7 linked regions of the Homo sapiens genome follow. The protein of the gene in region 1 purifies or fractionates together with the protein of each later gene. This does not show direct contact. Each region holds a gene or a part of one and is shown in the gene's direction. Other genes may lie near its edges.

The links.
Region 2: the proteins of TMEM132A (region 1) and ECPAS purify together in Homo sapiens (affinity purification with mass spectrometry; one large-scale study listed by BioGRID and IntAct). This does not show direct contact.
Region 3: the proteins of TMEM132A (region 1) and COX6B1 purify together in Homo sapiens (affinity purification with mass spectrometry; one large-scale study listed by BioGRID and IntAct). This does not show direct contact.
Region 4: the proteins of TMEM132A (region 1) and NES purify together in Homo sapiens (affinity purification with mass spectrometry; one large-scale study listed by BioGRID and IntAct). This does not show direct contact.
Region 5: the proteins of TMEM132A (region 1) and ENOPH1 purify together in Homo sapiens (affinity purification with mass spectrometry; one large-scale study listed by BioGRID and IntAct). This does not show direct contact.
Region 6: the proteins of TMEM132A (region 1) and SEC62 purify together in Homo sapiens (affinity purification with mass spectrometry; one large-scale study listed by BioGRID and IntAct). This does not show direct contact.
Region 7: the proteins of TMEM132A (region 1) and SMYD5 purify together in Homo sapiens (affinity purification with mass spectrometry; one large-scale study listed by BioGRID and IntAct). This does not show direct contact.

Annotation. Positions count from the first base shown.
Region 1 is NC_000011.10:60,927,460-60,930,959, forward strand, and holds part of TMEM132A (transmembrane protein 132A isoform b precursor), read left to right. Parts: intron 1-181; coding exon 182-400; intron 401-1,169; coding exon 1,170-1,501; intron 1,502-3,050; coding exon 3,051-3,200; intron 3,201-3,500. UniProt on the Homo sapiens protein: May play a role in embryonic and postnatal development of the brain. Increased resistance to cell death induced by serum starvation in cultured cells. Regulates cAMP-induced GFAP gene expression via STAT3 phosphorylation.
Region 2 is NC_000009.12:111,372,884-111,376,383, reverse strand, and holds part of ECPAS (proteasome adapter and scaffold protein ECM29), read left to right. Parts: intron 1-1,181; coding exon 1,182-1,271; intron 1,272-2,345; coding exon 2,346-2,412; intron 2,413-2,977; coding exon 2,978-3,069; intron 3,070-3,147; coding exon 3,148-3,214; intron 3,215-3,500. UniProt on the Homo sapiens protein: Adapter/scaffolding protein that binds to the 26S proteasome, motor proteins and other compartment specific proteins. May couple the proteasome to different compartments including endosome, endoplasmic reticulum and centrosome.
Region 3 is NC_000019.10:35,651,323-35,654,822, forward strand, and holds part of COX6B1 (cytochrome c oxidase subunit 6B1), read left to right. Parts: coding exon 1-27; intron 28-3,248; coding exon 3,249-3,349; intron 3,350-3,500. UniProt on the Homo sapiens protein: Component of the cytochrome c oxidase, the last enzyme in the mitochondrial electron transport chain which drives oxidative phosphorylation.
Region 4 is NC_000001.11:156,674,608-156,678,539, reverse strand, and holds the start of NES (nestin), read left to right. Parts: upstream 1-1,132; 5' UTR 1,133-1,275; coding exon 1,276-2,058; intron 2,059-3,199; coding exon 3,200-3,324; intron 3,325-3,932. UniProt on the Homo sapiens protein: Required for brain and eye development.
Region 5 is NC_000004.12:82,458,090-82,461,589, forward strand, and holds the end of ENOPH1 (enolase-phosphatase E1), read left to right. Parts: intron 1-1,891; coding exon 1,892-2,031; 3' UTR 2,032-3,088; downstream 3,089-3,500. UniProt on the Homo sapiens protein: Bifunctional enzyme that catalyzes the enolization of 2,3-diketo-5-methylthiopentyl-1-phosphate (DK-MTP-1-P) into the intermediate 2-hydroxy-3-keto-5-methylthiopentenyl-1-phosphate (HK-MTPenyl-1-P), which is then dephosphorylated to form the acireductone 1,2-dihydroxy-3-keto-5-methylthiopentene (DHK-MTPene).
Region 6 is NC_000003.12:169,969,807-169,973,306, forward strand, and holds part of SEC62 (translocation protein SEC62), read left to right. Parts: intron 1-3,500. UniProt on the Homo sapiens protein: Mediates post-translational transport of precursor polypeptides across endoplasmic reticulum (ER). Proposed to act as a targeting receptor for small presecretory proteins containing short and apolar signal peptides.
Region 7 is NC_000002.12:73,224,245-73,227,721, forward strand, and holds the end of SMYD5 (protein-lysine N-trimethyltransferase SMYD5), read left to right. Parts: intron 1-621; coding exon 622-716; intron 717-1,386; coding exon 1,387-1,457; intron 1,458-1,551; coding exon 1,552-1,702; 3' UTR 1,703-2,977; downstream 2,978-3,477. UniProt on the Homo sapiens protein: Protein-lysine N-trimethyltransferase that specifically catalyzes trimethylation of 'Lys-22' of the RPL40/eL40 subunit of the 60S ribosome, thereby promoting translation elongation and protein synthesis.

The DNA of each region.
Region 1 (3,500 bases):
AGGGCCTGAGGTCTGCTGGGTACAAATTGGGAGCCTTCCCCAGCCCCGGCTGTGCTCCCCATATTCCAGAGGGGGAAACTGAGGCCCATAAAGGTTCTCTTCTGCCAAGCTGGGATCCCATCTTCCTAGATCTTCCCCTCCCAAGCTCCTCTTTTGTTAAGCCCTCTCATTCTCCCTCCAGGTGGTCCCCCCTCGAGTCACTGAGCCCCACCAACGGCCAGTCCCATGGGACGTGCGGGCCGTTTCAGTGGAAGCGGCTGTGACTCCAGCAGAGCCCTACGCCCGGGTTCTCTTCCACCTCAAAGGGCAGGATTGGCCACCAGGGTCTGGCAGCCTGCCCTGTGCCCGGCTCCATGCCACACACCCTGCCGGCACTGCTCACCAAGCCTGCCGCTTCCAGGTGAGTAGACAGGCCCCACCTAGGCTGGTCCTGCTGCAGCTGCATCAGCCAGGTGGTGGGCCCGCGGCAGAGAGGAAACCCCCACTCCTGGGAAGCGCGGGGGTTGTGGACCACCCGACTCCATTTCTGCCCCCACTAGCTTTCAGTGCTGTGAAAAGGTTATTTAGGGCCCCAGAGGGAGTTCAGTCCTTGGTGTGTGACTTTGAGTAAGTAACTTAATCTCTCTGAGATTCAGTTTCCTCATCTGAAGAATGGGGTGTTAAGAATTCCTACCCCATCTGGAGTTGGAGTAAGGAACAAGTGAGATGAATGTAAGGATAGCTTACGGCAGAGTAATCAATCAGCCAGTGTGTTTGCATTATTAGTAGTGTTACTTTTATAATTGCTATTTCCACTATTTTGGAGTCTAGCACAGGAATCCATGGGAGAGGCGTCTCTTGAGCTTTAGGATTCTGAGAAGAAGACTGGATTCTAGGCAGGATAGTCCTGGGCTTGGTTAGGGTAAGGCCCTGGGATTGGCTTACTTTGTAATGAGACCTATCCCAAGGGCTGAAGAGTGGTCTGCGGACATGCTCTGAAACCTAGACCTGGTTTGAAGCCCCAGCCAGGTTGCTGGTTTGCTGTGTCACTCAGGCTGTGTCTCCGGCCCATGCTGGGCCTCCCTTTCATGAGCCCCTCCAGCTCTGGGTTTCCTGCCATGGGTGCTGAGAATCCTGTTCCTCGCCCTGCACCCACCCCCATGCCAATTACTGCTGTCGTGTCTTCACAGCCATCCCTGGGCGCCTGCGTGGTGGAGCTGGAGCTTCCCTCGCACTGGTTCTCACAGGCCTCCACCACACGGGCCGAGCTGGCCTACACGCTTGAGCCTGCAGCTGAGGGCCCTGGGGGCTGTGGCTCCGGCGAGGAGAACGACCCTGGGGAGCAGGCCCTCCCAGTGGGGGGTGTGGAGCTGCGCCCAGCAGACCCCCCGCAGTACCAGGAGGTACCTCTGGACGAGGCTGTGACTCTGCGGGTGCCTGACATGCCAGTGCGGCCCGGCCAGCTCTTTAGTGCTACCCTCCTGCTTCGGCACAACTTCACAGCCAGCCTCCTGACCCTGCGGTGAGCACCAGGCCACGGGGATGGGTGAGGGTGGGAACCTCTGTGGGAAGACTAGGGACAGGTACCTGCTCCTCCTGGGGTCCTTGCTGGAATCCTTGACCTCTGCAAAACATGTGTCCACCAAACTAAACTCCTTCCAGGTAAAAAGCCATGACTGTGCTGGTAGGAGCCCACCATGGGCACAGCCCTGGAATTAGAGTCAGAAGTAGGAAGCTGCCCCTTCCCCTGGCACCTCCCTGAGATTCCTTTGTCCAATGGGGCTAACGGTCCACCTTCAGGGCAGCTGCAAGTCTCCAGGGAGGGGAACCCGCAAAGGGCTTAGAGACTGCAGTACCTAAGTGTGAGCTCTTGCTCCAGTGCTCCAGAGAGGGATATTTGCCCCAATCACGTTCACCTACATGCTGTCCCTCCTTGCCACCCTCGCCGTAGGAGTCTAGCCTTTGGACAGAGCTTGCTCTTCCCCATAGGAAGGCCCTGATTCTTTGTGTCCTTTTCCGTAATAAGTTCCCCCAAAGCAGCCCCCACCCACCTACCCAGTTCACCCGGCAAGGGCTTGCAGAGTATGACTTGCTTCTGGAGTCCAGCGCAGGAATCCATGGGAGAGGCATCTCTTAGGCTTTAAGATTCTGAGAAGCCTGAGTTCTAGGCAGGATAGTCCTGGGCTTGGTTAGGGTGAGGCACTGGGACTTGCTCACTTTGTAATGATATCTTTCCTGAGGATCGAAGAGCGGTCTGTGGACATGCTTTGAAACCTAGACCTAGTTTCAAGCCCTGCCTGGGTTTGTGCATGTCCCGTCTCTGTGTCTCCCCATCTCCTACGCCCTCCTATGCTCACTCTTATTAAGCAGATCTTTCCTAGACACTTACAGCCTGCCAAGCCCTGTGTCTTCACTCTGCAGATCCAAACACGAGCAAGGGCCAGTCCCTATCTGGCAGAAAGGGGCCCCAGTGGTAGGGAAGGGAGCTGGATGGGCATGAATTGGATTAGAAGGCATGTGGGTGTGTAAGCACTGAGGGAGGTTCAAAGTGCGGTGGGAGCTCAGGTGAGTGGGTGCAGTAAGGGGGAAATTCATCCCACCACTGGAAAAGCTTTCTAAAGGAAATGGTCTGTGAGTTGTTGGAGGCTTAAAGCATCAGCAGGTAAAGTAAGAAAGGGCAGAGCAGGCTGAAGGCACAGACTGGGCAAAGGCTTGGAGTCACGAATGGGTGCCGTGTGTGTGGGAAACTTGTGTGTAGCTGAAGCAGAGAGTGCATGGAGAGATGTCACAACCGAAGTTAAGGCTGGACCAGACCCTGGAGGGCCCCCAAATGCCCGGCTAAGCTTTGACCTTATGGGCAGTGGGGAGGCGTAAGTGGTCTTTGGGTGGGGGAGAGCTGTAAGGTGTGAGCTGCACTGAGGCGGGGTCCTTCTGGGTTGGAGGATGGTGAAGAGGAGATTCAGACTGGAGCCAGGGAGGTCAGATGGCTTTGGCTCCTTGTCTTTCCCCTTCAATCCAGCCCACAGTTCAGCATGCACCTTGCCAAACTGAGCCTATACTCTCTTCCCCAGGATCAAGGTGAAGAAGGGGCTGCATGTGACAGCCGCCCGCCCAGCCCAGCCCACACTCTGGACTGCCAAGCTGGACCGCTTCAAGGGCTCCAGGCACCACACCACCCTCATCACCTGCCACCGTGCTGGGCTCACAGAGCCAGATTCCAGGTGGGCAGTTTCCCTCCACCCAGGGGGCAAAGGAGGGAGGGCTGGTTATAGAGTGCAGTTGAGCAGATTTGGAGGCTGCCATGCTGCCTCTAGATCCCCAGGTGAGCAGACCCAAGGACAGATTTTTTCAAGGAAGCAGCACAAAGCAGGCATAATCCATTCCTTCATTCATTCATTCGGCCACTATCTTCCCAGCCCCAGCCATGTGCCAGGCATAGCAAGTGTCTGTGAGTCTTATTCTAAGAGATGCCAACCAATCCTGTGCCCCAGGTAGAGCCCTCATAGCCACTACTCCATCCC
Region 2 (3,500 bases), on another chromosome or scaffold:
CTTATGGGATGAGTCAAGCAGCTGTTGTGACTCCAGTTTTTTCTTAGTATATTTCTCTTTTCTTCTCTGTTACTAAGTGGAATAAATAATTCCCCAAATACCAGAAACAGTTGGTCCAAATTTGTATTACAAGAGACAACAACATATCAAGAGCTCTCTATAAATTTACATCTGTAGTCTTTTGATCTGCCTATTTAGAAAGGTTCAGAGTTGTGCCTGTGCCTAATAGTTATCTTTGGGAGGAACTAGGAAAGTTATAAGCTGTGGAGGTATTTAATGAAGTAGGTAACATAAAGGTATGTGAAGAGATTGGGCAATGTCGATATGTTGTTTTAGTCATAGGAAGGCATTTGCAGTAAAGGGCTGCTTGGCATTCTGAGGTTCTGATTTCTAAACTTCCTGGAGTCTTGGTAAAGTTACTCTGTTGTGCATTCCCTGTAATGGTTAGTTAGCTATGATTGTGTTTACTGGAAATTAGTTTGCTAAGCAGATCTGTACCTTTAGCAGGACTCTGAAGGTATAGATCCAACCCCTAAAAAAACTGAAGTGTACAAAAAACTATGTTAAACTGGTGAAGAGAAGTAGCTATTTTTTAGTGCCTGCTGGGGGAGTATTACCAAAATTTGGTCTAAGAATGTTATGTCTTAGTTGGATTATTGGGGGGAAATAAAAATTTAAAGAAATAGGAATAGTTAGTGAATACCATTTAGTTATATTCATTAGTAATAGAAAACATGTTAATTGCATTTTCAAAAATAAAGGCCAGCAATTTATAGGAAAAGTCATCTAAGAAGTTGACTCATTAGAGGGGGTTTGGTAGGGTAGGCCCACTGTAGAAGATCAATATTTAGTTTAGGTTTTTTATACTAAACATGGATTGATAAAGAGGAAGTAGGCCCAGAAAGATTCTTCATTCTTGAGTAATCATTATTTTTCTTTTTTAGCAAATTGATGTTTTTCATTTTTTTGTTTGTTTTTAGTGTTGAATCACTGATGAATAATTTTTCTGTTTGTAGTACAATAGTGGTTTTAATATTGAAATCAGAGCAGAAGCAAGCAGTGATTTTTCAACTTCATGTCAAATCCAGTTGGTACACGTTTGACAAGGGCAGTTTTTAATTGAAGATGTGGTCCTGACTTATTTGCCAAGGCTTACCTTTATATTTGTCCTTTTTCAAAAGTGCCTGCAATACCTTGATGTGTCAGTGCTGGGCGAGCTAGTTCCTAGGTTGTGTGAACTGATCAGAAGTGGTGTAGGTCTTGGAACTAAGGTAAGTGTACTTTCCACAAGAGGAAATGTGCATCTTCATTAGTTCTGGCCATAAGGATATAACAGCCATCATGTTTGAAATTCATGTTTTACCACAAAATCTAATATTATACACTAACCATTTTATTTCTGTGGTTGCACTGATAACTGAAAACATGTAACTGGTTCAAGAAATAAAACATCTAACTGTTCCAGTAAGTATTAACTTATTTAGTGGAATCATTTCTGTTCTCTGGTTGCCGTGTACATACCCTCTGGGTTGTCATTCATTAGCAGTTCATGGAAATGCACATCCAGTTATTAGGGCATGGATTGTTTTAGGTGGCAATTGCATTTTTCACAGAGGGGTCAGCAGTGTTTGAATAGAAAAATGTCCTAGTTTTCAAGATCTTTGAAGGATCAGACACCCCCCTACCACCCTTTTAACAACAAATTAATAACTCACATTTTTTCTTATGACAAAATTAACACTTGCTGGTATTTTAAAATTTTAGCATTTATAGATTAGGAGAAAGTTAAAATAAAAATTGTCCAGAATTTTGCCATACAGAGATAACTGCTGTTAATATTTTGAAGTGTTTCCTTCCAGTCTTTTCTGCACATGTATCTTCTGCAGTGTCCTCTTCTAATGGCCGTATGATACTCCACTGTATGGATGTAACATCATTTATTTTACTCCATCAAGGAACATCTGATTTGTTTTCAGTTTTTGAAAAAAATAGTAAAGCACTGTGATGAGTGTCTTCAGGCACACCTGAAGATATTTGGTTAAATTTCTGGAAATGGAAATGTTAGCACAGTGATGGACAAGATGACATATTTTGCTTTTCCAGAAGATTGTACCAGTTTTCTTTCTTTTTCACAATGTCTGAGATCACCCATCTTTCTCTTGGAGGTTTAAAAAAAATCGCTGCATTACTAGTTTAAGAGTTTGCCTTTTTCTATATTGAGTCCTGGAGGGGGTATTAGGCTTCATGTATTTTATATGTTTAAATTTTTGGCACCTAAGCCAATGGTTTGGTAGGTAGAACATTGTGACCATCAGATTTAGACCTTTGCTTTTGTAACCCTGTAGGGTGGCTGTGCCAGTGTCATTGTGTCATTAACTACTCAGTGTCCTCAGGACCTAACACCTTACTCAGGTGAGTTTGTCAAGGGATGTGTGGTGATATTTTTGCACAGCCCTGTCTTGTGTGACAGAGTTTTAAAAAGGAAAAATACTTATCATTCAGACCTGCTTGTGATGCTGTGTGCCTTTTCTCCCCTCAGTCCCCTGACTCCTTCATTTCTTTGTCTGCAGGAGGTGCAGAGTTTATCAAGTTTAGCAGCTTTTCACTGTTCATAAACATTTGATTATTCCTTAGTGGTATAAGGAGGTAAAAGTATCCTCTTTTCCACAGGACTTACCATTGATAGCTGATTTTACATCAGCATTTTTCTCTTCTTAGATTGGCTTCTAGACTGGACTAGTGTTCTTTATATACCTCGTTCTTATTTTGCATCTTTTTCCACGATATTCTAGTTTAATTTTAACTTTATATCATGTAAAAGGAAGCAAATGGATATATAAATATAACATCCAGAAATCTAAACTACTGTGGAGTAAATCAGATGTTAATTACAGGGTTAGGTTTGTTTGGGTTCTGGGAACAGAGTGGAACATTTGGTCAACCAAGTATCAGATTTTTTTCTCTTTATTTCTGGTAGGTAAACTTATGAGTGCTTTGCTGAGTGGCCTGACAGATCGGAACAGTGTGATTCAGAAATCTTGTGCATTTGCTATGGGCCATTTAGTTCGGGTGAGTTAAATTTCTTGCTTAGTTAAATAAAACTCTTTGACAGTTATAAAGAAATACTTAGGATTGTTTCTTTTTCAGACCTCACGGGATAGCAGCACTGAAAAACTCCTGCAGAAGCTCAATGGGTGGTATATGGAGAAAGAAGGTACCTTTCTTTTTCTATTTTATGTCATTTTAAATTTAGATGTTAACAGCCCAGTAAAACAGTACAAATTAGGTCTTACCCTCCATGATTTTATGTGATTTGCTAGAAACATTTGTTTCTTTTCTTTTCTTTTTTTTTGAGATGGTGTCTGGCTTTGTCGCTGAGGTTGGAGTGCAGTGGTGCTATCTCAGCTCACTGCAACCTCAGCCTCCTGGGCTCAAGCGATTCTTGTGTCTCAGCCTCCTGAGTAGCTGGAACTACAGGCACGTGCCACCACGCCTGGTTA
Region 3 (3,500 bases), on another chromosome or scaffold:
CTAGAAACTGCTGGCAGAACTACCTGGGTAAGCAGGACCTTTCCCTGGCCACATACCTCGAGTCACTCACCGCTTGCCTCTTCCTAGGGGACCCATCCACCCCAGCCTCCTCCCTTTTATTCTGAACATCCTTACTCTGGAAGGCCCATGCCTCTCATCACCTGCTGTTCAGGTCCAGGCTAGGGTTACAAACTTTAGTTCCTGCAATGATTTTTTTTTTAATTTAAATTTTTTATTATTATTATGGTTTGGTTTTGTTTTTTTCCAGAGATGGGGTCTCACTTTGTCACCTAGGCTGGAGTGCAGTGGTGCAATCATAGCTCACTGCAGCCTCAACCTCCTGGGCTCAAGAGGTCCCCCTACCTCAGCCTCTCGAGTAGCTGGGACCACAGGCCCACACTACTGTACTTGGCTAATTTTTTTGTAGAGAAGAGGTCTCAGTTTGTTGCCCAGGCTGGTCTCAAACTCTTGGCTTCATGCGCTCTTCCTGCCTCAGCTTCTCAAAGTGTTGGGATTATAGGTGTGAGCCACCGTGCCTGGCCCCTACAATGATTTTTTTTTAAGCTGTATGTGTGTGCGTACTGTAACATGTACAGAAAGCACATAACAAACATGTACAGCTAAATGAATAATTCTAAAGTGAACCCCTTGTGCAACCATAACCTGGAGAGAAAAGCAGACATTGCCCACACTCTCATCTCCCTGCCTTCTTTTTTTTTTTTTTGAGATGGAGTTTTGCTCTTGTTGCCCAGGCTGGAGTGCAATGGTGCAATCTTGGCTCACTGCAACCTCCGCCTCCCAGGTTCAAGCAATTCTCCTGCCTCAGTCCCCCAAGTAGCTGGGATTACAGGCACCTGCCACCACACCCAGCTAATTTTTTGTATTTTTAGTAGAGACGGGGTTTCTCCATGTTGGTCAGGCTGGTCTCAAACTCCTGACCTCAGGTGATCCACCCGCCTCGGCCTCCCAAAATGCTGGGATTACAGGCATGAGCCACCGCGCCTGGCCTCCCCACCTTCTTTATGTCCTGTCTGGAACACAGCACCCCGCTCTCCCCAGTAGAGAAGTGACGCCACTAACTGGGGGTTATCACATCTTTGTTTTTGGTTTTGGTTTTTGTTTTTGAGACTGAGTTTTTTGTTTTCGTTGCCCAGGCTGGAGTGCAATGTCACGATCTCGGCTCACTGCAACCTCTTCTGCCTGCTGGGTTCAAGCAATTCTCCTGTCTCAGCCTCACTAGTAGCTGGGATTACAGGCACCCGCCACCATGCCCAGCTAATTTTTTGTATTTTTTTTTTTTTTTAGTAAAGACAAGGTTTCACCATGTTGATCAGGCTGATCTTGAACTCCTGACCTCAGGTGATCCACCCACCTCAGCCTCCCAAAGTGCTGGAATTACAGGCGTGAGCCACTGTGCCCGGCCTCACATCTTTGTTTTTTACCACCATGTTTATTATTTTATTTTATTTTATATATGTTATGTTGTTATGTTATTGATGGAGTCTGTTTCTTGTTGCCCAAGTTGGAGTGCAATGGCACGATCTCAGCTCATTGCAACCTCTGCCTCCCGGGTTCAAGTGATTCTCCTGCCTCAGCCTCCTGAGTAGCTGGGAATACAGGCGCTCGCCACCACACCCAGCTAATTTTTTTTTTTTTTTTTTTTTGAGACGGAGTCTCGCTTTGTCGCCCAGGTTGGAGTGCAGTGGTGCAATCTCGACTCACTGCAACCTCCGCCTCCCAGCTTCAAGCACTTCTCTGCCTCAGCCTGCCGAGTAGCTGGGATTACAGTCGCCTGCCACCATGCCTGGCTAATTTTTTTTTTTTGTATTTTTAGTAGAGACAGGGTTTTACCATCTTGGCCAGGCTGGTCTTAAACTCCTGACCTCGTGATCCACCCCCCTCAGCCTCCCAAAGTGCTGAGATTACAGGTGTAAGCCACCATGCCTGGCCAATTTTATTTATTTATTTGAGACAGAGTCTCGCTCTGTTGCCCAGGCTGGAGTGCAGTGGTACAACCTTGGCTCACTGCAACCTCCGCCTCCCGGGTTTAAGCAATTCTCCTGCCTCAGCTTCCTGAGTAGCTGGGACTACAGGCGCGTGCCACCATGCCCGGCTAATTTTTTGTGTTTTTAGTAGAGACAGGATTTCACCATGTTGGCCAGGCTGGTCTCGATCTCCTGACCTCATGATCTGCCTGCCTCGGCCTCCCAAAGTGCTGAGATTACAGGCGTGAGCCACCGTGCCTGGCCAATTTTTTGTATTTTTTTTTTTTTTTTGAGATGGAGTCTCGCTCTGTCGCCCAGGCTGGAGTGCAGTGGCGTGATCTCGGCTCCCTGCAAGCTCCGCCTCCTGGGTTCACACCATTCTCCTGCCTCAGCCTCCCGAGTAGCTGGGACTACAGGTGCCCGCCACCGCGCCCAGCTAATTTTTTGTATTTTTAGTAGAGATGGGGTTTCACCGTGGTCTCTATCTCCTGACCTCGTGATCTGCCTGCCTCGGCCTCCCAAAGTGCTGGGATTACAGGCATGAGCCACTAGGTCCAGCCACTTTTTTGTATTTTTAATAGAGACAGGGCTTCACCATGTTGTCCAGGCTGGTCTCGAACTCCTACCCTCAAGTGATCCACCTGCCTTAGCTTCCCAAAGTGCTGGGATTACAGGCCTGAGCCACCATGCCCGGCTACCACCGTGTTTAGATTCACCTCTTTGTGAACTTTATACATACTGTGTGTATTCTTTTGTGTTTGGATTTTTTCATTCAGTACCTTCTCAGATCCATACATGCTGTGGCATATAGCTTGCTCATTTTCATTGCTGTCCAGTTTTCTACAATTTATTCTATGCCTGTACACTTGTGTGATTTCCATTTTGGAGTTCTTACAAATGGTGTGGCTGTAAACATCTTTATAAATGTAATTTTGCTGGGTGCAGTGGCTCACGCCTGTAATCCTAGCACTTTGGGAGGCCGAGGTGGGCAGATCAAGACCAGCCTGGCCAACATGGCGAAACCCTGTCTCTACTAAAAATACAAAAATTAGCTGGGCATGGTGGCAGGTGCCTGTAATCCCAGCTACTTGAGAGGCTGAGGCAGGAGAATCACTTGAACCCAGGAGGAGGTAGAGGTTGCAGTGAGCTGAGATCGCACCACTGCACTCCAGCCTGAGTGACAGATTGAGACCCTACCTCAAAAAAAAAAAAAAATGTGTTCCAACTCTTGATCTGGGCTGACTTGAACCCCTTTCTTCACAGACTTCCACCGCTGTCAGAAGGCAATGACCGCTAAAGGAGGCGATATCTCTGTGTGCGAATGGTACCAGCGTGTGTACCAGTCCCTCTGCCCCACATCCTGGGTATGTGCCTCCTGCCAGGGCCCTTGGGATGCTGGGGTGGGGTCTTAGCAGAGGGGAGTGTGGTGGCTTGGTGGGAGCTCATCTGTGAGGGGCAGAGGGAGGACAGGGCACCACACTGTCCCAGGACTCAGTGCCTTTCCTCCCGCCTAGA
Region 4 (3,932 bases), on another chromosome or scaffold:
TCCGTCTCATTATCCCTGCATCTCCTCCCCAGCCCTACTTCTCCTTCACTGTAAATCCCCCAAATCCCACCTGTCCTTTACCTCCCAGCTCAAGGATGCACTCCGTCCAGAAAGCCTTCCCTACTACTCTCACCCTTGGTGAGCTCTCTACTTCATAAACTGTAGAATCTTTAAAAGGTTGTTTTGAAGATTAAGTCAGATCATGGAAGTAAAATATTGGAACACGACTGGGCACATCATAAAGGCTGGATAAACTTGGGCTAGTCGTTAGGAAGGAAAAGAATGGCCTCTTCCTGCTGCTTCCACTTCTGAAAGCCGCCAGAGGGCGTCCACTACCCAACATTCCCTGGCAGGGGGTGCGGGAGAAGGGGCCCTTCCCCAAGAACAGAACTTCCTAAAGCGGATGTTTGAACCTCGCAGTTATACAGAAGACTTGTAGGAAGGATGGACAAACGTTCTTAAGCCCATGACGGCCCTTAACCTGGTCGCTCCCTTTTCTGATGGAGACTCAGGCAATAGCGTGTGTGCGTGTGTGTGTGTGTGTGTGTGTGTGTGTGTATCCGTGTGTCCTAATATCAGACATTTGTTCTTGTTTTCCAGGCAGCGTCTCTCTAGCTTCTTTCTGCAATGCTGTAGTACTCTCTCCAGTATTTCAGGAGGAGGAGCATTTGCTATTTCAAAAACGAAAAACAAAAACCTGGCCACATCCATTTTTTTCAGCAGCCATGCGATTTCCATCATTGCTCACATTTTATGGATGAGGAAACTGAGTCTTAGAGGAATTCAGTAAGTGATACCTCTCTCGGATGTGTTGAGTAACTGAGACTGCACTCCCTCCCAGGCTGGAACGTCCTGGTACTCCCACCCCCACAGGCTCAGTTCTGTGCATTATCTGCCTTTTTCGGGGATTGTGACCCTTCTTCACAGCCTCCTCCCTCAGAAAGCCACCACCATCAGATCCGATTCTCCATGGTACAGCTTCTTCTTTGGTTCCACTCTCCAGCACCCTGGGGAAGCAGGAACAGAGGCTGCTGCCACTCTCTGACCTCTAAGGGGTTAAGGCCTGGGTCCCGCCCCTCTTCCCGCCCGCCTGGCGGGAGTATGAATAGCCTCGCTCCCACTCCCGACTCTCAGTCGCTCAGGCTACTCCCACCCCGCCCCGCCCCGTCATTGTCCCCGTCGGTCTCTTTTCTCTTCCGTCCTAAAAGCTCTGCGAGCCGCTCCCTTCTCCCGGTGCCCCGCGTCTGTCCATCCTCAGTGGGTCAGACGAGCAGGATGGAGGGCTGCATGGGGGAGGAGTCGTTTCAGATGTGGGAGCTCAATCGGCGCCTGGAGGCCTACCTGGCCCGGGTCAAGGCGCTGGAGGAGCAGAATGAGCTGCTCAGCGCGGAGCTCGGGGGGCTCCGGGCACAATCCGCGGACACCTCCTGGCGGGCGCATGCCGACGACGAGCTGGCGGCCCTGCGGGCCCTCGTTGACCAACGCTGGCGGGAGAAGCACGCGGCCGAGGTGGCGCGCGACAACCTGGCTGAAGAGCTGGAGGGCGTGGCAGGCCGATGCCAGCAGCTGCGGCTGGCCCGGGAGCGGACGACGGAGGAGGTAGCCCGCAACCGGCGCGCCGTCGAGGCAGAGAAATGCGCCCGGGCCTGGCTGAGTAGCCAGGTGGCAGAGCTGGAGCGCGAGCTAGAGGCTCTACGCGTGGCGCACGAGGAGGAGCGCGTCGGCCTGAACGCGCAGGCTGCCTGTGCCCCCCGCTGCCCCGCGCCGCCCCGCGGGCCTCCCGCGCCGGCCCCGGAGGTAGAGGAGCTGGCAAGGCGACTGGGCGAGGCGTGGCGCGGGGCAGTGCGCGGCTACCAGGAGCGCGTGGCACACATGGAGACGTCGCTGGGCCAGGCCCGCGAGCGGCTGGGCCGGGCGGTGCAGGGTGCCCGCGAGGGCCGCCTGGAGCTGCAGCAGCTCCAGGCTGAGCGCGGAGGCCTCCTGGAGCGCAGGGCAGCGTTGGAACAGAGGTTGGAGGGCCGCTGGCAGGAGCGGCTGCGGGCTACTGAAAAGTTCCAGGTGAGGAGGTTGAGGGCCTGGGTGAGAGAAAGTCCCAGAAAGCTCCAGAAAGTCCCTTATGAAGCTCAGAGACCTTCTGGGAAGGGAGTGGGGCTAGCTGGCTGCTGAATCAGGAGCCAGTTCTCAGAAACCTGGTGCCACAAGTCCTAGACTTTTACAGCCCGTCTAGTGTAGGATGCGAATGGTGGGGCTTCTCGAAGCACATCCCGGGTGGGCAGTCAGGCCCAAGACCCGTTGCAGCAGCCCCGCCACTCTCTGGATGGCACCTTCTGGCTCTGATGATGACCGGGGCTCCGGGTCCCTTCCCAGGCTCTGGTATTACTAGGAGGACACCCAGCACTGTCGCCTCTGCGCTGAATCTGGTGGCCTGGCCACTCAGAATCACCAAGTTCCTCACAGCCCTCCTTCTCCTGAGGGGAGGAGTGAGGGGCCGTGAATGAATGGCTACCAGCCCCCTCCCATGTCATGGCTTCTCGGCTCCCTGGAGCACATTCCAGAGGCCCATAACAGCTGCTCCTTCTCACAGGGCACAGATGTGACCAGCAGCTGAGAAAACAGCTTCTTGCCTGGGCCACACAGAGGTGCCATGGCCACCTCCCCATCCCTCCTCTCAGAGGAGACAGAATCCAGAACATGTGGGAAATGGGGGTGGGGCGGGGGTGAGAGCCTGCTGTGAGGAGCAGGAGACAGTTGTGGGAGATGGGACCAACGGGGGACGGGGGCTGTTTGCCTTCCAGTCCTGCAGGCTCCAGGCATCTTGATTAATCGTTTTTCCTTCTGCTTTCGCTTTTTTTTCCCCCTCTTCTCTCTCCATAACCCATCTCGTCTCCTCCCTCACCTCCCCTTCCTGTGGGAGCTGTGTTCTGAGCAACATGTGCTACCATTTAATCAGCATCCTCAGAGGAGGAGCAGGCCATGGGAGAGAGCTGAGAGTGCTGACAGGGGCCCTGGGCTCATCTTGGCTGATCCAGAGGGGGCTCTCTGGGCAGGGAATAGGGTAGGGGAGGCGGGGGTCTGCTACACAGATAAGTCAGCCAGGGAGCAGGAGGTGCTTCCCGGGCAGCGGCAGCGGGCAGGAGGCAGGTTGGTTCACAGAAGGGACCCCAGCCCCTCCACTGACTGCCTCTCGCCTGCCCTGCAGCTGGCTGTGGAGGCCCTGGAGCAGGAGAAACAGGGCCTACAGAGCCAGATCGCTCAGGTCCTGGAAGGTCGGCAGCAGCTGGCGCACCTCAAGATGTCCCTCAGCCTGGAGGTGGCCACGTACAGGTACGAGACGAGCCCTGTCCACCCAGGCACACAGAGGCACACACACATGCTGGGGCAGACTACGTGGCTGAAGGGGACCAGAGGTGTAGGTGATGGCAACTCTGCTGCCACTGGGTTCTGTGACTCTAGGCTGGTCACTTCCACACCGGAACATGTCCTGCCTGAAACCGTCTGCTCCCCCATAGGCTGGAGACCTGAGCAATGTCCTGTGCCCAGGAAATCCCCCCAGGAGAGATGATATTGCCGAGCGGGACAGCCTCTGGAGAGGGGCTGGGCCCGTGTGGGGCAACTGCATCCAGACCCTTCCCCCAAGGGGCAAAGCTCCAACTCTATGTGTGCCCGCACCCAGGGGGTCATGTCCTTTGGCAGCCACGGAAAGGAGGCATTGCAGGCATGGGGTGGCTGCACTGACTTGCCACCTGACCTGGGCCTCAGCCTCGTCTAGGGGCTGAGGGCTGGGCTGGGGGACTTCCAAGGCCTCTTCTAGCCTGGATGTCATGGGGCGAGACTCCTCTGATGCCCCTAGTGCCCTTGGTCCTGCCCAGCCTTTCATTGTCCACATTTTCTGTTATCCTAGAAATGGCTGAGACCAAGGAGGGGTGGCTTCT
Region 5 (3,500 bases), on another chromosome or scaffold:
GGTCATCGGCAGCTGGGATGAGGCAGGGAGCTGTCTGCCTGCTTGCTCTTTTCTCTCTGGTCCTGTTTTGGTACCACATGCCCAGACTTCCACTGCTGAGGCAGAATGAAAAACTAAGTTAATATCCCAAATAATGGCTGGGCGCGGTAACTCACACCTATAATCCTAGCACTTTGGGAGGCCAAGGTGGGTGGATCATTTGAGGTCAGGAATTCAAGACCAGCCTGGCCAACATGGTGAAACCTTGTGTCTACTAAAATACAAATATTAGCCAGGCAGTAGTGGTACACGCCTGTAATCCTGGCTACTCGGCTGGGGGCTGAGGCAGGAGAATTGCTTGAGCCTGGGAGGCGGAGGTTGGGATGAGCCGAGATCATGCCACTGCACTCCAGCCTGAGCGACAGAGAGAGACCCTTCTGAAAAAACACAATAAAATAAAAAATAAAATCCCAAATAATACCCAAGTATGAAAAAGTGTCTCAGCATTACAACAGTAGAGCAAATAGATGCTTAGGGATAAAACTTGCCCTGCAGTGAATTAGATAAAAAGCCTGAATATGGAACGGCCACTTGTAGTGTCAAGTCCCATGTGGATTGTGATGGCTTAACTTGGTCATATTCCCGGGTTGCCAGTCACGATGAAAACTTTGCTCAGGGCAGTCAGGCTAGGAAGTAGGGGTGAGTGGAAGATAGCTGCCTTTCTCCAATGGCATCTGCAGAGGTGGTCTGAAGAAGACATTCCCACACAGAGAGGGGAGTCTTGAGTACTGTTTGCTCTGGGAAAGTGACAGGCCCTTTCACAGGCAGAACAGAAAGCAGGCACTTGAGGAGGTGGGTGGGTGGAAGAAACAGCTCAGCCCCAGTGTGTCTCCTGGGAACTTAACTCTCTCAGCACGACTGCCCTTCAGTTAATCTGTTCAGGTGCTGTGACTCTTCTCCAAAGGCTGAGAAACTAATGGTGATTACTCTTACACCAAATCTAAATTCCACGGGATTTATATATATATATTCCAGATTTCTCACCAGTTTTGTTCTATCTGTCCTAGTAAGCGCCATCTCTCTTATCACAGGCCTGTATCCCATTTCCCACTCTAACTTGCTCCATTCTAGGCTGGGAGTATGACATGTTTAGGGTCTGGAGGTAAGAGCAGATATCTTGGGCTGATTAAACCATAGGATTCCATTTGTCCCATTATCTTCTTTGTGTTTTTATTTTTTTGATACAGGGTCTCACTCTGTCACCCAGGCTGGAGTGCAGTAGTGCGATCTCGGCTTGCTGCAGCCTTGACCTCCTGGGCTTAAGCAATCCTCCCACCTCAGCACTCTTGAGTAGCTGGGACTACAGGCACACGCCACCACGCCCGGCTAATTTTTGTATTGTTTTGTAGAGATAGAGTTTCACCATGTTGCCCAGGCTGGTCTCGAACTCTTGGACTCAAGTCTGGCGTTCAAGTGAACTCCTGGGTCCACCGTGCCCAGCCCCATATCATTTTAATTCGTGTTACCAACAGCTTGTCCTTTGGGAAACAGCTCAGTTCTCGGTATGGGCTGATGGGAGGAAGTGGAGGAAAGGTGTAGGACAGAACATGGCTCCATCCTTCTGCATTCATAAGTACTTAATAAAGCTCAGAAGTGTAGGATACACTGCCATTCTCTTCTGTCAAGTACAGTTACGTATTTTTTAAAATTTTATCATGGAAAAATTAAAACATACATAAAAGAGATAATAATATAGTCAACCCCAGGGTGCCCATCTTTTAGCTTCAACAGTCATCAAATCAGGGCCAAATTCATTTCTTCCATCCCCACATCCCCCTGCTGACTTTGCTGCAAATCTCAGACATCATTTTTTGGTGTTTCTGACACACACACATCCTTTGATTTTTCACAGAGGCCAGTGCTGCTGAGGAAGCAGATGTGCACGTAGCTGTGGTGGTGAGACCAGGCAACGCAGGATTAACAGATGATGAGAAGACTTACTACAGCCTCATCACATCCTTCAGTGAACTATACCTGCCTTCCTCAACCTAGAGAAGGGTTGTTAAGGCAGACCGCCCTGTTCCCCAGAGTTGTCCCTGTAGTGTCTAGGTTTATTCTAATGGTAAAAGTAACTTACTTAAAAAACATATGTACACATATGTATGCAAGTATGTATATATGTGTATGCTCAGATTAACTTCCATAGGTACATAAGTGAAAGAAGTCTCAGTTCAGTGAACACAAAACTTATTTAAAGATGCTTTATATGTAGAAATTGTTTCAAATCATACTCTAACCCTTAGTGAGGGCAAAGTGTAGTTGGTAGAAGAAATTGCTAAATACCTATCTAATGTGCTATGTTTATCAAATCGTGTACTAAAATGGAAAGCTAGTTTTGAGAAATTATTCAGAAGCCTTGTTATTTTAAAAATGAAATATTTCAAAGACTGAATATTTTCAAAGAAAATGAATAATTCATTGCCCTTGTGATTTAGAAGATTATAACAGCTGTATTTCATATTTGCCTCCTTATATATATCAAAGACCAAGGTATTTCCTTCTGCTTCAAAAGAACAAAATTGGGAAAGAAAACTCACTTGAGTCTTGATCAAACAAGTGTCTTTTACTTAAGAAGAAACTTGGTAATCATTGTGGCACCCACAGCAAGCAGTTGCCTTACCAGTGAAAAAGGTGCACTGAGGTAACATCTAAAACAGAGATGTGGTTCTTAATGTTTAACAGAACAGTTCTAATCCTGCCACGTGTTATCATTATAGATTTTATAGTTGCCTTTCTAACTACTTAGCACAGTTTGAGAATACGTTAATTGCTATTTACTATTTAAAAAGTTTTACTGAAATCAGTCCATAACATTAAGATGAGCCCTAATATGTAAGATTTTCCTCTGGAATGGATGTGAGAAATGTAAATTTTATAACAGCAGTATTTATCCTGGTTTAATTCTAATACGATGTCATGTTAATTTCATGTTGTGATTAATAAAAGCATTTTTTCTTCACTCAGTTTTATATAGGTTCCTGAACTCTATCCACATGCCGCCATAGCAAAAGAGAAACTGAAAAACAAGAATATTTAGCTCTTATCTTAATCGTGTATCATGTGTGTGTTTTAATGGAGTGCCGGTGGCAATTCATGGTTATTATTTGAGTTATGTATACATATAAGGTTACTATTCCATTTGGATAGTAAGCATTCAGGATATGAGTGGAGTTCCTTATATTTTTGAGAATCTTAACTTTGAGGTCTCTAAGGTAATGCTTGAAGGAGGGAGTTACTCTCCTAACTAATCAAGAAAAACTCACGAATCCTGGAGGAGCAATTTTAGAAATGCTTTGAATAAGGAAAAAGAAGTCTTAGAACTATGAGAGGACAGGGGATATAAAAGATTTTATGTTGATAATTTTGATCTAGTAGCCAATTAAGAAATCTAGGGTCTATGAAAATATATGAATAAAAAAGAAAGGAAATGAGTTTAGGTACATCTTAGAAATGGGAATAAT
Region 6 (3,500 bases), on another chromosome or scaffold:
TTGCTAAAGAGAATCATCCCATTCAGTATTCTGCTTAATGTCCAGTTGAGTTTTGAGACATTTAAATGGCTAATTCTTAGAACTTTTATAACCCTCCATTAGTTATTTTTGTTGCACCCATCTGTCTTCCTGGCAAGCAATAAAACCTTGACATATCATGGGCTTATGTGCTTAATTTCAGGACAGGGAAGAAAAGAGAAAATTTGGGACTATATAGCCAGACTATACAGGTCTAATTTCTGACTCTGAATATTCTGAAGAGAAAGAACTCAGGAAGCCAGTCCTAAATCAGAAAACTACCCCTCAAAGGCTTAATGGAGGGTTTTGCAGTTTAGCAAACCCATTGCTAAGGAAAGAATACAATAGAAGGGAGTTGGAGCTATTACAGAAGGGCACTGCTGTTGTCTAGATACTCTTGTATAGTGTTATTTGTGTAGCACATATTGTTACTAATGATTAAGGTCCCCTCCAGCTTTCAGATCTTATTGTTAAACTACTATTTGCATTTTTCACAAATATTTTATACTGCTTGAACCAAGCCTTTTTCTTTTTTGCTCAGTTCATGGTTGACAGATCAACTAAGCTAATTTTTATTGGATGTAGTAATTTTTAAAAGTTCCTCTGTATCACAAATTCTGTAAGATTGGTGCCTGTGACATACTTACTCTTGATTTTTTTCTCAAAAAGGTTAAATATTGGCTAAAATAACTTAGAAATGTCAAACTCTATCTTATTATAGTATTTGAGTGTCGGTGTATTCTAAAGTAAAAAACAGTATTTATTAAAGAATTTTATAAGAGTATTCTAACCAAACTTCCAATTTAAATAATTTTGTATTTTAAGTTACAGCACCCAGTGTATTGGTGTTGGGTGCAAAGAAAGGAAAGGCAGTCCAGCCTAAATTTATTGGCTCTTAGCTTCCTCATTGTAAGACAGTTGTGTTCATTCATTGAACTAAGAAGTTCTCTCCATTTGTTTGAAGATTGATAGGTTGGTTTCTCTTTATTAGTGGGTGCTACTATTCCCAAAAGGCCTTCACTTTGTTAGAAGTCTTCTAGGAAAATTATAAAAATATTCTGTTTACATCAAAAGAGAACAAAGAGGGGGAGGTACTGTAGTCCAATGTATAAACAAAAAGAAGGTAAAACTTTTATACCTTCTTATGCTGCATCAGGAGAACAGTGAAAGTGAAGACTGCATGCACGTTGGATGTGGTGGCTTGTGCTTGTAATCCCAACTATCTGTTCATGTTCTCATGGTACTTTTTTTTTTTTTTTTTAAAGAGACAAGGTCTCACTGTGGTGCCCAGGCTGGAATGCAGTGATGGCATCATAGCTCACTAGAGACTCAAACTCCTGGTCTCAAGTGATCCTCTGGCCACAACCTCCCAACTAGCTGGGACTACAAGTGTGTGCACCACCTCACCTAGCTAATTTTTTTTAATTTTTTGTAGAGATGGAGTATCAGAAAGTTACCTAGGCTGGTCTTAAACTCCTGGTCTCATGCGATCCACCTCGGCCTCCCAAAGTGGTGGGGATTACAGGGATGAGCCACTGAGCCCTGCCTCTCATGGTACTCTTCTACAGCAATCTATCTTTCTGGCTTCAACGCCAAAGCAATGGCACAAATTATATTGTTGCATTGAAGGCAGTCTACAATATGGATAAGTTATTATAAGTTAATAAATTGCAATACTTTAAGAAAGTATCAGTAAACAAGTTAATTCTGTGTCTAGTTGGGAGAGATTATCCAAGTCCGTGTTTTCTGGTCTCTTCCTTTCATTGCCTCTTGATAGTGCCTTTACAAAGGACAGGGTGCAGTTTTAGAAGAGTTTGGTGAACTTGAAATTAATTGTTAGAATGAGATTTTTAAATTTTGTGCATACATATCAGGTTCCCTATTGCGTAATATGTAATCAGCTTCTCAATTTTTTATGTACCCTAATATTTAATCAGGTTTTACATGTGATGCCTCTATCAGCAGTCAGTAGATTAGTATATTTATGTCTGTATTCAGGAATGGTATAACTGAGTGTTAGTATGAGTATATTTGTATCATGCCTAAATTTGATATGGTCATTCTCTACAATTACTTTCCTTCCACATTTCCTTTCTGTTGATAAAGTTGGAAATCTGACATCTTTACCTAGCCATTTTATTTATCCTTTATCATTGAGTTCTATGTGTTCTACATTTGAAATGTTTCAGATATCTAAATTTCTTTCCCATTTATAGTCCAGTATCACACTACAATTTACTTGAATATTACAGTAGTCTTCCATCCATTTCCCTGCCTTATGCATTTTTTTCCAGTTCATCCTACACACAGCCACCAAAATCATGTCTAAATCATTTTTCTAGTTATGTCCTATTAAGAAACTACTAGTGGTCTTTCTGCTGCTTACAGGGTAAAGTAGAAATTTCCTTGCCTACCTTGATGACTATTCTGCTTTTACACACTTAATCTCCCAGTACTTCCTAGCTTGTCTCTACTAGAGCCAAATTTTGTGTCATTCTCAGCCACAATATTTATGGCTTTTCAGTCAGTTTACCCAAAACTTGTTCATCTTTCAAACTTTATCTTCCTCTTCCAGTGTTCCCATCCACATTGATAATCTCACTCCTAATTTGGGTGCTTTCACTTTGTTGCCAAGGCTGGAGTGCAGTGGCATGATCTTGGTTCACTGCAGCCTCAACCTACCAGGGCTCAGGTGGTCTTCCTACCTCAGCCTCCTGAGTAGCTGGAACTACACATGTGTAGCACCTTTTTCTATCTTTTTTTTTTTTTTTTTTTTATGTAGAGAAGGAGTTTCACCATGTTGCCCAGGCTGGTCTCAAGCCTGGTTTCCTGGGCTCAAGCAGTCTGCCTGCCTCAGCCACCCAAAGTACTGGGATTACAGGCATGAGCCACCCAACCCATCCTACTCTGTGTATTTCAAAAATATTTTTTCTGCCCCTCTTTTTGGGAAATAATAATTACTGCTTCTAACAGTTATGTAACAGAGTGTACATATCATGCCTTACAAATCTTTGCTGTTAACTGTAGCATCCAAAGATGATAGGGTGAGTACTCTGTAAGTCTGGAAGAACAGGTCACATTTATTCAGACTTCTCCCCCACAATTTTTAATCAAGCACCTCCCAGTAACAAGTTATTTAATTAGATCGATTTTAAGTTGACAACAGATGTATCAGATGAGGAAAAAATTGAGCATGTGTGGTGTGATTATATAATAGAATTGGTTTCTATAAACCATTTATAGTATTCAACTTTTATAGTATTACTTTTTCAGATGTATGGATATATAGACTATTATTTACTAATTGAGGCTCTGCGAAGTGTAGTGTATTTTACAAACATAATTAAATACTATCATTTAATATGCCTGATACTAACATATATTAATATATTTTAGCATGGTTTCAAAAATTTTAATTAGGAATTTTTGCCTTTTATTATATCAGAAAGTATATTTTGCAGTCAGGCCTCAAATAAATCATT
Region 7 (3,477 bases), on another chromosome or scaffold:
GGCCAGGCCCTGTACTAAGGCAGGCATAGAGCTCTGATTCTTGCAAAGGGATGCATGGGCTTTGCACCGTCACTGCCTTGTGAGATTTGGGAGTACTGGGAGCCCAGGCTACAGGGCGAGTCTCATCAGCACCTGATGAGAAGGGGCAGATTCAGCTCAGACAACTGCCTTTTCCAGACCTCAGCTTCCCACCCCCTGGTTTCCTCACTGCAAACTCCTCCTCCCAGGCTCCAGGGCCACTCTACCCTCCCAAACTGGATTCTCAGAGGGCCTGTGTCAGCTGTTACTAGATGTCCAATAGCAGGCAGAACTGAGTTAAGTGGTCTGGGGTGGGCATTCCTTCAGAGCCCTGTCCCTCCCTTTGCGAGACAGTGGGAACACGACTGAGAATGAAGTTGGCCAGTCACAGCGAGTTGGAGTGGGAGTGCTGTGGAGTTCATTTGTGCTGTGCTATATGGTCTTCAGGAAAGAACACTGGATGCAGAGTCCAGAAACTTGGGTTCCAAAACGTGCTCAGCCTTGGCAGGGATGAACGAGCAAGAAAGGACCCAGTGCTCTGCAGAATTGAGGCTATTATTTTTTTTAGTCAATAATCCTCATTACCTGCCTCTTATGATCCAGGCAACCACAGTTGTGTGCCCAATGCAGAGACCTCCTTTCCAGAAAACAACTTCCTTTTGCATGTCACTGCTCTGGAGGATATTAAGCCAGGAGAGGTGAGGGGGACCAGGAACCGTCGGGATGGGTGGGCAGTAGGCCTTGGAAGTTCTCTGCAGGGATCAGGAGCAGCAGTGGCTAGAGCACCTTGAAGTTCAGGCTGTTGGGTGGAATCCCCACATACCTTAGGGTCTGAGTCTTTCAGCTCATGGTTAGGTTCTAACCCTACCTCGCTTTTTCAAAATATGACTCCAGAAAGCCTCAGGACAGTGTTTGAGGGACACCTATGTGCTCAGATTCTTGTCCCCAGCTATCTTTTGGTCAAATGCAGATATGTAATTTCTAAGAAAGCAGGAGATAGCTCTTTGTGGGTTTAGGGTCTTGTCTGTTAGTGCAGGCACAGTGCCTGGTTGAATCTTCTTGAGGGCAAGTAGCATCATACCAAGACCTCTGATCCCAGCTGCAGACCTTGGCCATTGACTGGCTTTCACCACGGCCTGAGGCCAACCAGTCTCCTCTGTCTCAGGCACAGGCTGTTGGAGCCTTATAGTGGCCTGCCTACTGAAGGCACTGGGAACTGGATGAGGGCAGCCAGCCCCTTCACTGAAGGGCAACGCAAACTTGGCTCCTAGAGATGGGGCAGTGGTTGGAGATAGGGTAGCTGTTGGGGAGGTCCTTATGCCATTTAAAAGAGCACAGACCATCAGACTGCACTTCTCTGCCCTACAGGAAATTTGTATCAGCTACTTGGACTGCTGTCAGCGGGAGCGCAGCCGCCACAGCCGCCACAAGATCCTCAGGTGCCAGCTGGGGACATGGTTGTGCAGCTGGGCTCTGGGGTCCTCTACCCATAGCTCCCTGACTTTTCCCCCTCACCATCCCCCACCGCTGCAGGGAGAACTATCTATTTGTCTGTTCCTGTCCCAAATGCCTGGCAGAGGCTGATGAACCCAATGTGACCTCAGAAGAGGAAGAGGAAGAGGAGGAGGAGGAGGAAGGAGAGCCAGAAGATGCAGAGCTGGGGGATGAGATGACTGATGTGTGATGTTGCCCTGCCCAGAAAGGGCCCTGCCCTAGACCCTGCCAGAAAAGGGGGCTCTTCCCCCAGAGAAGTGGCTTGGAGGGAACTTCCCACTCCCATTGCCTGCTTTCCCCATTCCAGCCCTCTCTGCTAGAGGGTAGGAGAGAGCCTGGATCTCTGGCCCCAACCCCCACCAGACCTCATGCCCTGGACACTGCTGCTGAGTTGGCTCAGACTCTGCACTGGCACTGAGCCTTTCACAACTGGCCTCCCCTTGAGGTTCCTCCACTCTAGGGTTTGAGGGGCTGGAATCAGGGCCAGGGCCTAACAGTGTTTCTTCCCCTCGGCCCCACGGCCCATACTCACCCCTTCACCTGAGGCTTCTCCCCTCTCAACTTGCTGTTGATTTCTTTTGAGGGGTAAAAGAAAGACCGAGTTCATTGAAGCAGAGATGGGAGGTGGTGAGGCGTCCTCACCTCCCCCCACCACAGCTGTGGCTGGTAAGGCAACTGCTTGACCACTGGCCCAGCAAGCAGAGGCGGGCAGGAGGATCTGGGCATCCTGAGCCCCTTCCCTGAGGCTGTCTCCTGGGAATGCTGGACCAGGGGGATTACTTCCCCCACCCACACCCCCATTTGGACATCTGGGGAAGTGGAGATTAACCCCTCCCCCAGACTCGTGCCTTGCCTCTCAGGACCTGGCACAGTGGCTGGCCTTATGGAGTATGGAAAAGGCCTCTGCCTTCCTCAGGAGGGACACATAGTGGGTCATCACCCTTTCTCACACCTGCTTCCCAATGAGCACTCAGCAGCATGGCTGAGACCTGGGGCTTGACAGGCCTGCGCTCCTTAGATTAGGATGCTCTGGTATTCCTGGGGCCAGTTAAAATGGGTCAGTGAGGGGCTCTCCTGGCCTCAATCTCCATCTTTAGGGTCTCCACAGACTAACATTGAAGTCTTCCAGAAACCTCGAGGAGCTGGGCTAGATACTTCGAGAGTAGCCCTGTCTTGTCCCCTCCTACCCCCAGATTAGCACCACCCCTCTCACTCTTGGGTTGGATGCTATGGGAATTACAACCCATCACTCCCAATGCCTCCCTTTCCTGGAGGAGCCTGCTGCATTCTCCTGCTGAGGGATCCCAGAGAGGGCAGGTGCCCACCCCACAGGCCCTTTCCTGGACCATGGAGCCAGGTGAAACCTGTCTGGCCCCTTACCCATTGGGTTCTTACTCCTTCACAACGGTCAGCACTCCTCTCCCAGCCCCCCTGCCCACTGTTCTCAATAAAATGTGAGTGGTGAGAGGCCTCTGCAGGAATGCTTTGTGGCAAGTGGCTGGGCAGGCTGCCCCGGGCGTGCAGCAGGCACAGGTGGGTGCAAAGGAATACCAATTAGACCAGGTAATGGTAGGAGATGGGAGCTCCAGGCTCACCAGCTTGGGCTCACCTCTACTGTTATTTACACCCTGCTATGCAAATGTTCTAATGCCCAAGAGCAAGGGTCCTCTGAGGTCCAGTTTGGGTGGTTTTTAAATTTTGAGACAGGGTCTCACCTTGTCACCCAGGCTGGCATGCAGCAATGCAATCATAGCTCACTACAGCCTTGAACTTCTGGGCCCAAGTGATCCTCCCACCTCCGCCTCCTGAGTAGCTGGGACTATAGGCTCACACCACCACACCCAGCTAATTTTTAATTTTTCTGTAGAGATGGGATCTTGCTATGTTGTTGCCAAGGCTGGTCTTGAATTCTTGGCCTCAACTGATCCTCCCACCTCGGCCTCCCAAAGTGCTGGGATTACAGGC